Regions from separate parts of the Homo sapiens genome. Here region 2 is linked to region 1. Evidence: fine-mapped expression QTL. Tissue or cell type: whole blood. Region 1 holds a variant in brackets; the other region holds the start of a gene. All regions are shown on one strand. Distances are between the middles of the regions.

The links. PIP is the estimated chance that this variant, and not a neighbour inherited with it, causes the effect.
Region 2: FUT8-AS1 starts here. The variant in region 1 is fine-mapped to the expression of FUT8-AS1 in whole blood (TOPMed, PIP above 0.99).

What each region holds. Positions count from the first base shown.
Region 1 is chr14:65,330,204-65,338,879 of GRCh38, forward strand. MIR4708 (microRNA 4708) reads right to left here and starts at 4,980; the gene lies at 4,914-4,980. RefSeq lists enhancers at 355-965, 5,919-6,018, 6,079-6,228. The variant G/A (reference allele first, on the strand shown) is at 4,103.
Region 2 is chr14:65,407,550-65,416,225 of GRCh38, forward strand. FUT8-AS1 (FUT8 antisense RNA 1) reads right to left here and starts at 5,068. Exons shown (of 1, transcript NR_024334.1): 1 at 3,043-5,068. It overlaps FUT8 (fucosyltransferase 8), which reads left to right and starts at 5,181. Exons shown (of 11, transcript NM_001371533.1): 1 at 5,181-5,665. RefSeq lists enhancers at 4,360-4,679, 5,922-6,486 and silencers at 5,220-5,379, 5,680-5,799, 5,810-5,999.

The DNA.
Region 1 (8,676 bases):
TTGTGTTCTACTTGCCAGCCAGAGTTCCCTCTCTGCTAAAATAATTCACCCTGGGAAGATGATAGGGGCCTTCCTTGGAGACCACACATCTCTCCAGTCTAGATAACCCTACGAAAGTATCTAGGGGCTGGTAATCTTGCATGGAGGAGTGGGGAGAGTTCTTTCAGACCGTTCTTATTTGGTTCAAAATAACGATTTAGGGCCAAAGAGTTCCTGAATGCTCAAAAAGTATTTTCTCTCAAATCTAGGTCTTGTGTTCAGCAATCTCATTTGAATCTCAAAAGTTAACCACTGACTTTCTTTTTCTTGGCATTCCAGCTATGATAACCTCACTTTTCCCTGGGGCAGGGCATGCCTGGGTCTGCAGAGCAGTAGAATGTGGTGAAGTGTGTTTTGTTGATGGTAGAAGGGAGGACCTGTTTAATGTCTCAAAATACCTTCTGGAGTTGCAATGTTCCAGCCTCTATTTTTATGCTAAGTACCTTAAACCCATGTAATCTTCAGAACAATCTCAAGAACTAAGTATAATCATTCCAACGCAGATGAGGAAATGAAAATTCAAAGGGAGAATGGGGAATTTGTTAAAAGATTCCAGTTGTAAGTGGTGGCAAAATAATGAACCTAGGATAACCTGATTCCAAAGTCTTCATTTTAAACCCCAACAGTGAGGCTGGGCACAGTGGCTCAAGCCTGTAATCCCAGAAATTTGGGAGGCCAAGGCAGAATCACTTGAGGCCAGGAGTTCTAGACCAGTCTGGGCAACATGGTGAGACTCTGTCTCTACAAAAAACAAAAAAATCAGCTGGGCATGGTGGTGTGTACATGTAGTCCTAGCTACTTGGGAGGCTGTGGCAGAAGGATCACTTGAGCCCAGGAAGTTGAGGCTGCAGTGAGCCATGACAGTGCCACTACAATCCAGCCTGGGTAACAGAGGGATCTTGTCTCTAAATAAATAAATAACCCCCAACAGTGGCCTCATATCTTGTCCAACAACTAACTCTCTAGGAGATTTGTTAAAAATAATTTTGATATGCCAGGTTCTCGCCTGTAATCCCAGCACTTTGGGAGGCCAAGGCAGGTTGATCACTTGAGGTCAGGAGTTTGAGACCAGCTTGGCCAACATGGTGAAACCCTGTCTCCACTAAAATACAAAAATTAGCCGGGTATGGTGGTGCGTGCCTGTCATCCCAGCTACTCAGGAGGCTGAGGCAGGACAATCGCTTGAACCCAAGAGGTGGAGGGTTGCAGTGAGCTGAGATCACGCCACTGCGCTCCAGCCTGGGTGACAGAGTGAGCCTCCATCTCAATAATAATAATAATAATAATAATAATAATAATAATAATAATTTTGATAAAGATCCACTCCAGGAGATCCTGATCCAGTTGGTCTCGGTTAGAGCCTGGTCATTAGTATTTTGAACAGTGTCAACCTTGTGAAAGGAAAATAAATCTTTGGACCCCCCCAAAGAGAAAAGTCAAGCTGGGAGCTGCTTAGGGCAAACATGCCTCCCATTCTATTCCTTAAAGGAGATAGCTACTAAGATAAAAAAGCTATATACCTGCCTCACAATTTGTCTACAAGGAAATTCCTTTTGGACAAAGGACAAACAGAACGCAAAGTCATCCCTCTGCTCACTGAGATAAATGCATATCTGATTGCTTCTTTTGGAAAGGGTAATTGGAAACTCAAAAGAATGTTTGTCTATCTATGACCTGGAGGCCCCCTCCCTGCTTCAAGTTGTCCCACCTTTCTGATTGAACCAATGTACATCTTACATATATTGATTGACGTCTTATGTCTTCCTAAAATGTATGAAACCAAGCTGTGCCCCGACCACCTTGGGCACATGTCATGGGACTTCCTGAGGCTGTGTCACGGGTGCATCCTTAACCTTGAAAAAATAAAGTTTCTAAATTGAGACCTGTCTCAGATATTTGGGGTTCACAACCTAAATTAATGAGATTCTGAAGAGATGATTAAATATAGAGTTTGTAACCATAATCGTTTCATTGCCCAATGTGCATAGCAAGTCAATACGCTGAAACACCTAGTTGCAAGAGAGAAAGAGGTTTAATTGTAGGGCAGCTGAATGTGATGGGAGGAAACCTCAAATCAGTCTCTCCAAGGAATTTGGGTCTAGAATTTTTAGTGATTTTGGAGTGGGCTGAAGTGTGGAGATCTTTGCTTGGCCCAAGGGTGCAGGATGAAGTCATAGAACAGGGAGATGAAGAAACTATATTCTCATGCTGATTCTGCTCTCCTCTGGGGGTCTTCAAACTTGTTGGCATCAGCTCAAATTTGGGATCTGAAAAACATCTTAAGCAATTCTTAAACAAAAGCCTTATGATTCTAATGTCAGAGATTCTATCTATCTTAATCAGAGGCCTGATGATTCTAACCTCAGACAGAAATACTATCTGTAGGAACAATGAGGATGCAAGTGGTCAGGATCTAGTACTCCACAACTTTCACTTCCTGTTGTTACAAGGAAGTGAGCCACAGTGCAGCCTAATTAATGCTTAATCATAACTATATTTCTGTCCAGAATTCTTGTTAACATGGTGAAGATGGCTTCAAGTTTATTCAAGCTCAAAGCTTGAGGGTGGCCACCCAAGAGCATAGATTCAAGTTGCCCTAAACCCACACTCTGATTAGAAATAGCTACAAGAGGATTTTTAAGGAATAAAGAAGAGGCAGCTCCTAAATTGTTTACCAAGAATTTATACTAAAATAACATAAGCTATTGATTGGGTATGTGTTATTCTTTGCATCACAAATTCCAACATGAAGATAATGGGTAAGGCAGTTAAGCAGGAACAAAATGCCTTTACACAGTTGCCCTGGACATGGGCGCAGAGATGTGACTGAAGTCCCATACTCCTGTCTCTCCAGGCTTGATAAATTTTGTATACTTCACATAGCTCAGACTGATCTGAGCTATTTTTCTTTCTCAGCGGAGTCTCCGTAGTCTCCGTAATTCAGAGGCACACCAAAATTTGAAAGCCAGCTCTACCACTGACTAATTGTGTGATTTTGGACAAATTAGTTCATCTCCTAGTATCTCAGTTTCCTCATTTGCTAAATGGGGAAAATAACAGCTCCAACATCATTGAGCTGTTGTGGAAATTAAATTAATTTAAAATGAAAGCACTTGGAAGAGTACTTGGCACATAATAAATGCTCAATAAGTGTTAAAGATTGCTACTTTTCCTGTCCCTTAGCAACTAAAAAATATCTTTTAAGGAGCGCCATTTCCTGGACATACTACAAAAAAGGGGAATTGCCTGCATTTACATAGATTTTTTGATAGTTGATGTCTCTGAGAGCAATATTCTTTTAGCCCCTTCTCTAAATCCAGGTTTATGCCTAATTTAGATCCCACGGTCTCCTGTGGTCCTAACCACCTTGTGAACATGTTATGAAGGTAAATTGAAGTTAATCTAGGGATGGAATGATGAGAGCAGGTAAAAGATAAATAGTTCAATGGTTCTCAACCTTGGCTATACCTTATAATTATCTGGAGAGCTTTAAACAATGCCCAAGTCAGCTGGGCATGGTTGCTCACGCCTATAATCCCAGCTCTTTGGGAGGCTGAGTCAGGAGGACTGCTTGAGGCCAGGAGTTTGAGACCAGCTAGGCAACATGGTAAGACCCCCTCTCTATTATATATTAAAAATAATTTTTAAAAAATGCCTAAGTCACACCCCAGACCAATTAATATCAGAATCTGTGGGAACAGGGCTCAGCTATCAGTCTATTTTAATCTCCAGATGATTCCAGTGTGTAGCCACTGGCCTCATCTTAGCTCGGCTGAGCTGGTGAGACCCAGTAATCTGTATTCTAACAAGCCTTCTGCAAATCTCAGGACCTTTGGTGTGAACCATCCCATCATCCTCCCAATGTCCAGGCCTCTGATTTCACTTCTCTGCCCAGTGGGTGTGACTTGAAAGCAAGAGAGGAGGTGCAACAACCCTTAGTTTCTGTAAGAAGGTACAAGGAGACCAGTTCTGTATATCAAATCCTGGTTTATTCTAGCCAGACCTGTCTTAGGGACAATGATGGTCTTTCAGCCTAAATGCTTGCTTCTCAGGAAGCAGGTGA[G/A]CCAATGAAGGGCCCCACTCTCTCCAAGTGGAGACTATAGCATTTGCCTAAAATACCCCTTCTCTCCAGTCCTAACTGTCCTGGAAGCTTCTCAGAGGCCAAATATGTAAACAAGTTCCAAACCAACACATCTGCTTTTCATTTCCTGCGGAATGCTAAAACGAGTCTTTTAAGGTTGCTTAAAATATGTTCTCTCCTCCCGCCCCACCCCCCAGGGCATTTGCTGTGCGTCCTCAGACCACCTCAGCTCCTCCTTCCCTACACCTGGGACTCTTCTGCGCAGACTTGGCTTCAAACAAGGCTCACGGTTCTTCCTGGCATTTGCTTTTTTGGCTTAGCGAGTGCACATTCAATATCTTTTTCTTCTTTTTCTTGAAAGCACTGTCTTCAGTCTCCTCACTTGTCCCTTTCTCCTCTGGCAAGCGTAATGCTATCAACATTTGAAAGTGGCCTGATTCCCTGGTGTCTGGTAAATGGCCTTGCTGGTGAACTTCTTTAGGAGAACTGCAAAGAAACTAGAGCAGGGGCTAAAGAGAGCTGCTCTCTTGGGGCTCAGATGCCCCTCCTGGGGCCCCACCTCACACTAGGTGGGTTTCCTTCCTAAATTTGAGCAACGACTCTGTGTGACCTTAGCCACCCTTAACTTTGCTCTGCTTCTGTTTAGCATCTGTTAAGGAGTGACCTTTGCCACCAATTAATGAGGGTGAGGCCCCATTCAGTTGCAAAGAACGTGGAATTGTAAACAAACTTGCAAGTGGAAAGACTAGTTCCAGGGGAAATGTAGGTAAGAAAGGTGCTCCCGTATTCTCCTTTTAGTATCAGAGAGATGCCGCCTTGCTCCTCCTGTTCAAGGAGCAAGGCGGCATCTCTCTCCTAAATATGCTGTTGTGTCTCATACCTCAGCTTCTCAGGGCCCTGCCAAGAGCGGGTAGGTAACATAACAACAGCTGTTACTGCCCCAATGTATCCTCCCTCCAAATGTCAACAACATACACTTTGGAGTGGCCTCTTTATGTTAAGGCCTTGAGCTTTAAGACTCAGCTCTGGCCTTTAAGAATCGTATGTTCCCGTTGAAGAGACAGGATGTGTGTAAAGATAGCAGCTAGAGACCATGCCCAACAGATAACAAACATTAAGGGAATACATAAGTATTGAACAAATATATATGGAGCACTAATTATGTTTTGTTGTAAGCTCTGAGGCTAAAGTGTTATAGGACTTTCTCCTTAGTTCAACTAAAAGCCGGATTCTTGTCACACAGCCATGAGAGATTAGGCTTGCAGACACTTTGAAGGGTGAGAAGAATGGAACTTATTGGGCAAAAAGGAAAATAAATGGAAACAGGGACTCTCAGCAAAGTGAGAGTCCTGCTTGCTGGTTTTTCCTGCCTCACTGATTGAATCCCATGTACTACCCTGGATCAGGAGAGGCCAGGCTCCTTCCTGCTGCAAAGGGTGTGAACTTCTGCAGCTCCACCCTGTTCTCCCAGTGCGCAGGCCAGTCGGAGTTTCTCAGGGGACCCCTTTACACTTGGCTGTCTCAAAAAACAGGGAGCAAAACAGATAAAACCCCTGGCTTTATGGATCTTATGTTCCTTATATATATATATGTATAAGGAACACACGTATATATGTGTATATATGTATATATATATTTTTAGGTTCTGGAATAAATGTGCACAACATGCAGCTTTGTTACATAGGTATATACATGCCATGGTGGTTTGCTGCACCCATCAACCCGTCATCTACATTAGGTATTTCTCCTAATGCTATCCCTCCCCTATTCCCCCACCCCCTAGATCTTATGTTCTAATGAGACAAGACATACTTTGAGAGGCCAAGATGAGTGTCAGCAAATAAATATGTATAATACACCAGCTTCTGGGAAGTACTTTGAAGGAAAATGAAGCAGATTAAGGAGGGTAGAGTGACATGGTTAAGAGAATGTGGTTTTTTAGATGGGAGATCAGAGAAGACCTCTCTGGTAAGGAGACATTTGAGTCAAAATCTGAAGAAGGAGGGAGTGAGTCATCTGAGTCTGTGAAGAATTTTCTAAGCAAGGCGAGCAGCAAGCACGAAGGCTCTCAGGAAGGAGTGTGCTTGGTGAGTTCTAAGAACAAGCAGGCCAGTGTAGCTGGAAAGTAGTGAGCAGGAGACTGTGGGCAGGAGAGGACATGAGAGAGGTGACAGAGTGGATCACTGAGGACCCTGCAAGTGGTGGTAAGGACTTTAGATTTTGTTTTGAAGCCATTGGAGGGCTTTGAGTAGAGCAGTGACATGATTGGACTCACACCTTGGAAGGATCACTCTGAGCATGGACTCCAAGAGTGCACAAGGAGAAGTGTGAGGCCAGTGAGAAGGGTGCTGCAATAATCCGGGATGAGATGAAGATGATGGTGGCTTGGACCAGAGAGAAGAGACTAAGGGTGGTGAGATGAGATTAGATTCTGATATATAATGAAGGTAGAGTAGACAAGATAGATGAGATATAGGGTTATGATTTATGACATAAAGAGAGAAATCAGGAATGATTCCAGTGTTTTTGGCCGATACTCAAGGTTTTAAATTTATAGCAGGGATGGGCTGCTTCTGGTTAAGATAATAAGGGAAAGATTAATGAAAGACCCAAGATTTGAGCTGCACTTTGAAAAACTAGTAGGATTTTGTGACTTATAAAAAGTCTCAAGGGCTTATTTTGAGACCATTTTATCTCCTGGAGTGCAGCCTCCTACCCTAGTTCCACTTCTTTCAGTTATATCAACCAGGAGCTCTGGGATGCGGGACTCAGCCAGCCCAAGGAAGGTGAATCTGGATTCTTTAGGCCAATCATGAAAATTTTCTACTCTTGCCAGTAACTGGTTTAGAAATGGGCTGGTTTAAGAATGGGAATGTACTGGCCTGGGCATGGTGGCTCATACCTGTAATTCCCATACTTTGAGAAGCCAAGATGAGAGGATTGCTTGAGTCCAGGAGTTTGAGACCAGCCTGGACAATATAGTGAGCCCTCCTCTCTACAAAAATAAAAAATAAAATTAGCAGGGCACGGTGGTGCGTACCTTTAGTCCCAACTACTCAGGAGGCTGAGGTGGGAGAATTGCTTGAGCTCAGGTGTTTGACACTGCAGTGAGCCATGATTGAGCCACTGCACTCTAGCCTGGACCACAGAGTGAGACCCTGTCTCAAAATAAATAAAATAAAATAAAATAAAATAAATAAGGCATATGCTATAGTTCTGGACAATGGAACATAAAAGGAAACTGCAGAAGGGACGTCTGGGAAAATCTCTAAGTCTTCAAAAGGAAGCAAGGTACTCTGGCCTTGAGATGTTGTTAAGGACATAGAGCTTGAACTGCTATTGCCATCTTGCAAACATAAAGAGGAAGGTAAAGGCAACAGCTGCAGAGTGGCAGAGAGAAAAGGTGGACAAGCATGGTTCCTTGAGAACATTGCTGAGCTATGGAATTACCCAACCCTGGAACTGCACAACTTCTGAATTTTTTTTTTTTTTTTTTGAGACAGAGTCTTGCTCTGTCGCCCAGGCTGGAGTGCAGTGGTGTGATCTTGGCTCACTGCAAGCTCTGCCTCCCGGGTTCACGCCATTCTCCTGCCTCAGCCTCCCAAGTAGCTGGGTCTACAGGCGCCTGCCCCCATGCCCAGCTAATTTTTTGTATTTTTAGTAGAGATGGGGTTTCACCATGTTAGCCAGGATGGTCTCCATCTCCTGACCTCGTGATCTGCCCACCTCAGCCTCCCAAAGTGCTGGGATTACAGGCGTGAGCCACCGTGCCCGGCCCTGAATTTCTTTTGTAAGATTAAAAAAAAAATCTTATCATGAAATGCTTTTGAGTTGGGCAGTTTCTACTTGAAGCTCAAAGTACATCGTTTTAGATAAGCAATAAAGATTCTGGTTAGAAGAGGGCAAAAACAAACACTTTGAGGCAAGACTTTCTTGGAGACAAGAAAGCTCAAAGCGTATTTGGGGAGGATTGGTGGAATAGCTTGACATTCATTCATAAATTCATTCACTAAGTATTTGTTGACGCCTACTGTGTGCCAGGCACTGTTCTAAGATCTAGTATTCTGCAGGAAACAAGATTGACAGGGTACCTCTTATGGAGTTTATTACCTTGTGGAGGAAAGAGGGGTGCATGTGGACAGTGGCTACTGTATTGAACAGCACAGGCATAGGGTCTGGGAAGGCCTAATTCAGGGAAAGCATGAAAGGATGAAACTGTGAGTTTTGGCAATGGCTTTAGGCTTCTGCTGCTCTGCTCTCGATTCATTCTCCAAAGAGATTTATTAGGTCAAAGGGCATAAATATTTTTAGGACTTAAAATTACTTTCCTAATTGGTTACATCAATTTATGGTACTACCCAAGGAATACAGGTCCTGATATTACTGGGTTTGGATTTAGGGATTTCCATTTTAATTTGGTAGGGATTAATTTAGTAAAGGAGTTCATTTAATAAAGTTAATTTAATTAATTTAGTGAAAAAATACCATGCTTCTTTTAATTTGCTTCTTTTTGATAATTAGTAAAATTGACTACTTTTGTGTGTTTGTTAATACTT
Region 2 (8,676 bases), 77 kb after region 1:
ACCTTGGCTTCCCAAAATGTTGAGGTGAAGGTATGAGCCATAATTGCTGGCTATATCCAATACGTTTTAGTGCTTCTTGAGACATATCTGTGTTAGGAACTGAGATGAAATTAAAGATATACAAGATAGAGTTTTTGCTTACAGTGTTATGGTGGGAACAAACAAACATAATTATTATTTTGTAGAATTAATAGTCCAGGAAAGAATAGTTTTCAGGAGTGGTATGACCACAGCTCAATCAAATCTGCAAGGGTTTTCTATCTGTCTGCCATCGCCAGTAGGTTGACTTCATTTTCAGGTTAGTTCCTCTTGCAAGATTGCTGCCAATGGCAATCTGGGTTACAGGTTGACTTGCTCATATCTGGCAGGAAAGAGAGAACTCCTTCCCCCAGATATGGACTGAAAATCCTTTCCTTCAGTCTGATTGGGCCAGTTTATCCTGGTCCTAATGGTTTTCAAGTGTATCAATTAGAATAGTCTAGGACTATTCTAATTCTAGCATATTCTAGTCTAGCATAACCTAGATGCTAGGTCATACTGCATTGAAAAATGCCCCCAAATCTCAGTGGCTTAAACTACAAAGGTGTATTTCTTATTAAAACCAGATGAAAATGGGAGGCAGGCTGCTCTACCTTGTCCTTTTTTTTGGAAGTTAAGCCGAGAGAGGCTTTACCGATACTTTCAAGATAATACTGGTCTTGAGTCTGGAGAAGAGTAAACACTGTAAGGACTTACGCTGGCCATGAACTGTTCTACCTGGAATTGACACATACCACTTCTGCCCACAACCCACTACAGACTGGTGGCTATAGCTAGTCAGTCACATGGTCCAGCCCAACTGCAAGGGGAGGAGGGTATCTGGGGGTGGGTGTGGAAAAATATAATCTTTTTGTATGTCTGGAAAGAGAGAGTAAGCATGATAAATCTCCTACCATATTAGGGAACCCATTTATTGGCTAATTGAGTTGCCTTTCTGTAGTTGGAGTTTTGGGTGGTTACCTAAAGAATTGGCAGATGAAAACAAAAATAAACAGCCCTATTAATAAGGAAGGACGGGAGTGAATGTTCAATTAGAAATCAATAGTGTGAACTATATGCTGCTTTATCCCAGTGGAGAAGACAGAAATTTCAGCCATGGAGGCAAGTCATAGGGAGGGATAGTCTGGCTAGTTTCATCAGTCTTTAAATCAATCACTTCATTTACTCTTGTAATGGGAAAGATTTGCTCTGGCTTTTTAATGAGTAGGTATAGAGTTTGTTTAAGGAGCTGGCTCAAAAGTGACTTAAAACACATTGAATTTGAAAATATAGATTCTTAGCTACTCAGGAGGCTGAGGCAAGAGTACAGCTTGAGGCCAGGAGTTCAAGACGAGCCTTGGCAACATTCTGCGACCTTGTCTCTAAAAAATAAAAATGAAAATATAGACTTTTTTTCCCTATATTTCATTTTTGTAGTTATTGTCAATGGTGTGTCAAGTTGGCTAGATTTATAGTTTTAGAACTGACGAACAACTAAAACTTACCTAGTCCAACCCTTTTATTTTACAAATGAGAAAACTGAGGCCCAGATGGGTAAAATGATTATCTCAAGGTCACCCCTTCTTGCTCTTGGCAATAACAATGCTGCCCTTTGGATGACTTCCTGGAAAATCGGATCCTGTAAGTGAAATGTAGCTAGAGCAACAATTATAAAACAACGAGAACAATTAACAATTATTCAGAATGCTTCCATGGCTGACAGTCAGTTGGTACACGTTGGTAGAGATAGAAAAATTTCTAAACTATTTGGTAAGTAGCTTATGCTAAGCCTTCTGAGTGCCTCAACCCCTTGCTGGAACTCCACAGATCTCCCCACCGTAATAACAGGATCCACCTCAAAGGTTTGATTTGAGAATTAAATGGTGGAGGTAAAGAGTTTTGCATGAGGCCTGGTGCTCAGCACTATTACACTTTGGCTATTATTTTTATTACAGTCATAATAAAATGGTAGTAAATTTCAAACCAGTTTCTACATGAATGTTCACAACTTAGGAAATGTGATAGCATTCACGTTCATTAACTTTGATCTAGCTAATCTCTCAATAAAATGGCCACTCATGTACTCACTTTAACTTTCATTTTGATCTTTTCCATAGTCTAAGGGTTGACTCCTTCTTGCCCCGGGACACCCGAGTCCCCATAGCTCTAGCTGATGGTTAAGAATTTGACCGAGGCTATATACAAGAAAACAATGCACTGACAAGGCCCTGTTACTTGTTGTATAACAGATCATAACGATTGTTCTGTCTAATCTTTTGTTGAACAGAACTTGTCTTTAACTTTTGGGATAAGCAAAGATGGGTCCAAAACCTAGTTTGGTGAGGGAGGGGTGGAGTAAGAGGTGGAGTACCTGTACTTACTTAAGCAACTATTACAAACTGGCAGTGATGAGCAGCAGAGGCAAGCAGTTGGGAGAAGAGAATGAGAGAGCGCAGCAACAGGGTGGGACCTGCAGCTTGTGGAAAAATGCTTTTGACACAGATACTTTCTGATGGCCAGTGATGTTTAGAACCTTTTGGGGGATTCCTTCTCTCTCAGAATTTAACCTGGCAAGAGAACGACTGAGTTCTAGGAATTTTCTTGTCTGGAGAGAGTAAAATAAATGTATTTTTTAAAAGCTGGGACTGTTATCCACACTGAGAAGAGGCAGGGTATAAAATTCCCTTTCATAAGTGAATTTCCTGGAAATTCATGATTGGCTTGGAACTTAATGTGTAAAGACTTGTTCTCAAATATCAGTTGTTTGACAGAGACCTCCAGTTTTGGGATGGCAGCTAAATCCTGAGCCTGCCTTGGAAAGGGTTTTGATAATAATGTTCCATCACAGGTGGAGAAGCACATTGATTCAACAAAGCAGACTTCAAAACCACTGAAGAATTAGTTTCTGAGTGTATTCAAGAGATACCAAAGTTATTTGTTATTTTAACGTATATTATACTGTTCTATACAAATGCACCAAATCCTGGGCAAAACATTCCTAGGACAGGTTTTTTTTTTTTTTTTTTTCAGTTGGAAGGAGGTAGGGAAAATAAGTGCTTTAATTCCTAGGATTTTGGAAGTAAAAATGGAACACCAGACAAAAATGGAATTTTTAGGCAAATGTAAAGCTTTGTACTTGGGTATCTCAAAGTATTATACAGTGTAAACTATCATGATTATTAACCAACTAGAAGTAGTTCTTTTTTTTAAATTTTATTTTTAATTTTAGACATGAGGGTCTTGCTATGTTGCCCAGGCTGAAGTGGCTACTGACAGGCACGATGTGGCACTGCAGCCTGGAACTCTTGGGCTTAAGTGATCCTTCCTGCTTCTTCTATCTTAAAAAAAAAAAGTTACGCTTGCTTGTTAAAATATTTTTAAAATGCTGTGTTTAAACTAAGAAGTAAATATCCACCCCACCTCTGACTTCTAAAAATTATCTAAAGTATGACTGGTAAGATTTTTACCTTTAATCCCACATAAGTCTAAAATTTGTGTTCATTTCCAACAACCAAAGTGTGTCACTTTTATACCAGAATTTTGTCCTGCTTATACGTTTAGTACAGAAATCTCATGGGAGAGAGCATCCATGCATTTACAAATTGTTATTGAATTATTTTATTGAATGATGACACCCAAACTGAGCTAGAACATAATTCTGGCTCTGCTAGTACATCTTCTGTGTGATCTTGGACAAGTCACTCTACTTTCCTTTCAATTTTCTTTTCTCACAGGGAGATAATCATAAAAACGACTGTAAAGTACAGCACTTCATAGAGTGCTTTTTGTTTAAAGAGCTGACAATAAATACGAGTCTCAAGGTCTAGGAAAGCCTCCCTCACAACCTGAGCTGCTTGAGGACAAGGGATTTTCTTTTGAATCAGCAGTACCTTATTTGTGTATCTGTGATAGAGTTCCTGGTACATAAGAAGGTCTCAATAAATATGTGAATTTATGAATATTAGGCAGATTGCAACCTTGACAGGCCACTGCCTCTTAAATCTCCTTTCTGTGATCTTTTAATATTTAACATCTAAAAGGCCGCCGCTACTTGCTTTGGGATAAGTATCCCCGGTATGTACTTTAAAATGCCCAAGCCTAGAGAAATGATTCTTGTCTTAAGGGCACCATTTCGCTCTCCCACCGTAAAGCGCCCCAGGCTTGGGATCTGGGTCCCAAGGCTACAGGGAAGAGTTTGGAACGGGAAGCTCATCTTCCGGCCCTCTGATTGGCCGGCTCGCACTCCACTCACGCGGCGCGCAGCTCTGATTGGCCTCGGCGGCACCCCTCGTCCCGCGACTACTTTGTGTGCTGGGGCGGCGCGCTCCGGTCCTCCCGCTCAGCTGGCGGTCTGGGCTGCTCTGGGGCAGCCCTTCGGTCCACTGCTCTGCATCGCGGGCGCCGGGAATTTTCCGAGTCCGAGCGGGTAGGACGCATCCTAGGGCAAAGCCTCTCCCCTCTCCCCGTGCTGTTCTCTTTCCCGTACTAAATAAACTTCCGCCTCAGAGGGGCTGTCGCAGCCGCGGGTCGGGAGAGGCCGGGCATCGAACTCAGGCCCTCGTGGGGGGGGTCTTTCTCTTCGAGTGAATGTGGAAACAGCTCTTACAAGATAAAGTAGGGCTTCGCTGAGTCTCCTGGGGGAGCGATGCCATTGTAGGATCGCGCTGGAAGCAGCAGTCAAGCGGCCAAATGCGGGCTGCAGGGGCTGAGCAGCAGCAGCGCGCACCCCTAAAAGTAGCAAGGAGCCAGCTTCAAAACCTCTAGTGCGGGTGCCCCCTAGGGCCGCCGACTGAGCTGGCACGGGCCGGTCCATTCCCGGCGCTGTAGGGAGCACAGCATTCTCTGGAGGCGAGTCTCCTCCCGGGATCCAGGATCCGCTCGCGCCCCGCTCAGCCTCCGGCCTTCAGGCGGTAGAGGGCGGCCTACGCCTGTGTGCGAGCCGGAGCCGGCGTGCGCAGCCGCTGCCCTGCTGGAACTGTGCCGTCCCGCTGTGGCCCGCGGCTCTGCTAGGCGGTGGATGCTGCTGCTACGCTCTCCACCGGCGCAGCGAGGAAGGGGGCGGGGAGAATCCCTGGCACATGCCAGGGTCGCCGTAGGTGGCAGCGGCCGGCGCATGCGCGCCCTCTCCCAGAAGCCAGGAACGCCGAGGGGCGCGCTCCCCCATTCGCGCGCGCACGCCGGCGCTGGCCGAGGCTTCCCCGCCTGCGCTCGTTGTCAGAGCCGCTCCGGCGCGTGCGCGCGTTATCTCCGGCCGACCCGAGCAGCCGGTTCCCTCCTCTCCAGGCCCCCTCCCCATCCCACCCCCGCCGCCTGGCCCCAGCCGACCCGTCCCTTCGTCTCCCCGCGGAATGGGGCCGGCACTGCTCAGGGTCGCGCGCCCTGGACCCAGCTCGCTCTCGGTCTCGCGCTGTCAGCGACTGCCCGGCTCGCGCCGCCTCGCGCTCTGCCTCAGTCAGTGGCGCCGAAGGCTCCGTTAAGCGGCGGCGGCGGTTCCTGTTTCCGTTTCTTCCTCTCCGTTCGGTCGGGAGTAGCATCCTCCACTCAGCCACCCTTCCCACTCCCCCATCGTGGGGCAGCTGCGGCTGAGGGCTGTGGCTTTGGCAGCTGCGACGGGGAGCGGCGGAGACCGCCTCTGCTCCCGCCTGGGGTAAGGGGGCGTTTTGGGAGCCGGGCCCCGCGCGCCTCGGGGTCTTGGGCTGGGCTGCGCGCGGGATCTGAGGAGGCTCCGCGGCTGTCCCTGCTCGTTCACCCGGGCCTGTTGCTGCAACTGCTGCCGGTTAACCAGCGGCTCTCGGAAAAGTGGGGAGGGAGCCCCCGGGACGCTCTGGCGGATGCCTTGGCGCAGCCCCGGGGGCGCGGGCAGAGGGTGAGGGGCGCCCGCCTCTCCAGCCGGGACGCGGAGCTGCGCCGCTGCTGCCCTCGGCGTCGCGCATCCTTGCCTAGGGCAGGGGCCAAAGCCTAGGGAAGGAGAAGGGTTGGGGGCGGGGGTGGGAGGTGTCCGTCGTTTCCCCTCCACACCTACCTTCCCTTCGTCAGCAGCTCGGTCCCTGGAGTCGCGGTTTGTGGGGAGGAAGATGCCCGTGCGTTATGGGCTCTTTCTGAGTGCTGCTCGGGCTAGAAAGCAGGGAGTGGACCCTCACAAAGATCCGCGAGGGACTGATGCAGGGCAGTTAAAGGCTTGAGTGCAGCTGTACTCCCTTTTGATGTGCAAATGACGAGCTGGCGGCTTTTGAGTATCAACTTATTTGGGAAGGTTAAATGAGTCCATATTTATCAGTTCTAGGAGGTTTGTCCTGCAGGATTGAGTGGGTTGTCGGGTGCAGCACCTGTTCTTTCTTCACAGTGGGGATTGCAATCTTCAGAGACGCAGTGTATTTCTTAAGTGGCAGTGTCATGCTTAGGGTTTGTCCCGGATGAGCTTTTATTTTAGCATTTTGCCATATAATATATAGATTGAGGCCTTGGTTAAAGGCACGGACAGGTGGTGTTTTTTTCCTTCCTATGTTTTAATTATTCACAGTTTATTTAAACCCACTCAGGAAGGTGGACCCAGAAAAGCCAAATTCTGTAGTACATAACCCCAAATTTCAAGGTTTTGCGGAACAAATTCAACACAAGTTTTGTGTCAGTTTAGAGTTAAACGCATCTCAAGTAACTGACTTAACTGGCTTGCCTCTATGAAAACTGTAGGCAGGTTTCATTATAGATTTTTTTTTTCTTGTTATTCCGGCGGTTAGGTGCATGTTTATTTTCTTGATTAAATTTACATTCTATGTTTTATGACTAATTCTTTAAATAGGTGCATCATATAGAAAGTATTTTAGGAGAGAAATTATTATTTAAGCACTACAGTATATCAGATATATGAGAAATAATGGAGTTGTAGTCTCTGCTCTTTAAAATAACTGTAAAAACATCTTAAAACCCTATGCCAAATAATAAGGCCCTGTACCTTGCTGTCCTTGTGAAATCTGGTATGTGTATAGAAAATCTTAATTACTTGATTTGTAAATACTACAGTAGTATTGAAAAGGTGGGAATTCAAGCATTTGTAATTGTGATTTCACAGGTTTAGTGTGTAAAAAATGCAGGGAGTTAGAGATGAATAGGCTATAAGACACGTACAAAGGTAGTTCCAAGACATGGATTTTCTTTTTGCTGCCTTATAAATTGAGAATTCTATTTGAATTCAAGAGCTGAACAGCTGGAATGAAACTTGCATAGATTGCAGAAACAGATGCAAAAATGTATCTTTGGTCAAGTTGTGAGTTAACTTGAAGAGTGTCTTGTGTAATAGGATAGTGATTCAAAATAATTTCCATAAAGTACGGCCTTATATAGGTTATATTTTGAGGATATTTTTGAATTTAAAAAGTCACCTGAAGTTGTTTTCCTACAAATCAGTTCTGTTTAAGATGTATGGAATCGAAAAAAACAAAACAAAACTAATTCTGATTACATCCTGCATTGTTTTGTTGCAAATTCTTACCAGTTATTTTTACGCAATTGGAGTGTCCTTAAAAGTGGTGAATCTTAAAATTTGCCAGTGGATTGGAAAAAACTGTTAACTTATTATTTTTAAAAATGCTGTTATATTAGTACATTGGTCTGGAGGGGGAGCTAGTGCCAAAGCAAAGTATAGCTTAATAGCTGTTTGAACTTTTAAAACACCCAAAACCAGATTTTTATGACCAAAAGAAACATAAATTTTTAATTAAAAGAGTAGGAAATTGATGTGGGCATATATATGTACATAGTTATTTGTGGAGTGAATATATTGTGTATTACAAATTAGTTTAAAAAAGTCTTTTCATGCGCTGCAATAATGGAAAGCTAAATGCTTAAAGATTTATTGGATTTCTCACTTAAAAATCTCTAAAATGTACCCCCAAACTTAGAGTATGTTATAGTATTTTCTTAACCTTCTTGTCCTGTTCATCAGAATCTAAGGCATGTATTCTTGACCCATTGTACATGTTGTGTGTTCTTAAATTTTGTTTTTATAATAGCTACAATCCTAAAATTTCAAAAACGAAGCTTCAAGTAGAATCTTATATGGGCGAAGGTATTAATTGTGTGGTAAGCTAGGTATTTATCAAAAGTAGATATAATTCCTTTTTTTTTTTTTTTTAAAGTAGAGATAATTCCAATAAAAAAATGGACCTTTTAGACATCTGGAGAACAATATCCCCAGGTCACTTAACCCTTATCTCCTGCAGTATAATGCAGTGCGTCCAGCTGATCTACCAAATTGAATGTGTGCCTTTGAATACGAAGCAGTTGTTTTGTGGCCTGTGGCATTTCATTTAGGTTTCTAAGCTGTAATAAATTAGTATGTTAATTTACTTCTTTCCATTCACATATTCTTTAAATCCAAGCCTAGAAACTGATAGTTATATGTATATTAAAATCATTGGAATATTGGTTTTTTTGCAGATAGTGTTTGGGCTGTTTATTATCCATAGCTCTTCATTATGTAAATAGAATCTCAATGCTGATAAAGTAAATAGATTCTTCCATTTCATTAATGGTTATTTTTGATTTATGATAAACTGCATTTAATAAATCTCTTGATTTAGTTAAATGGTGGATACATCATTTCATATTATAGCAAATTGATAAATATAAAAGAAAGTTTTACAATCATAAGAGTAAATA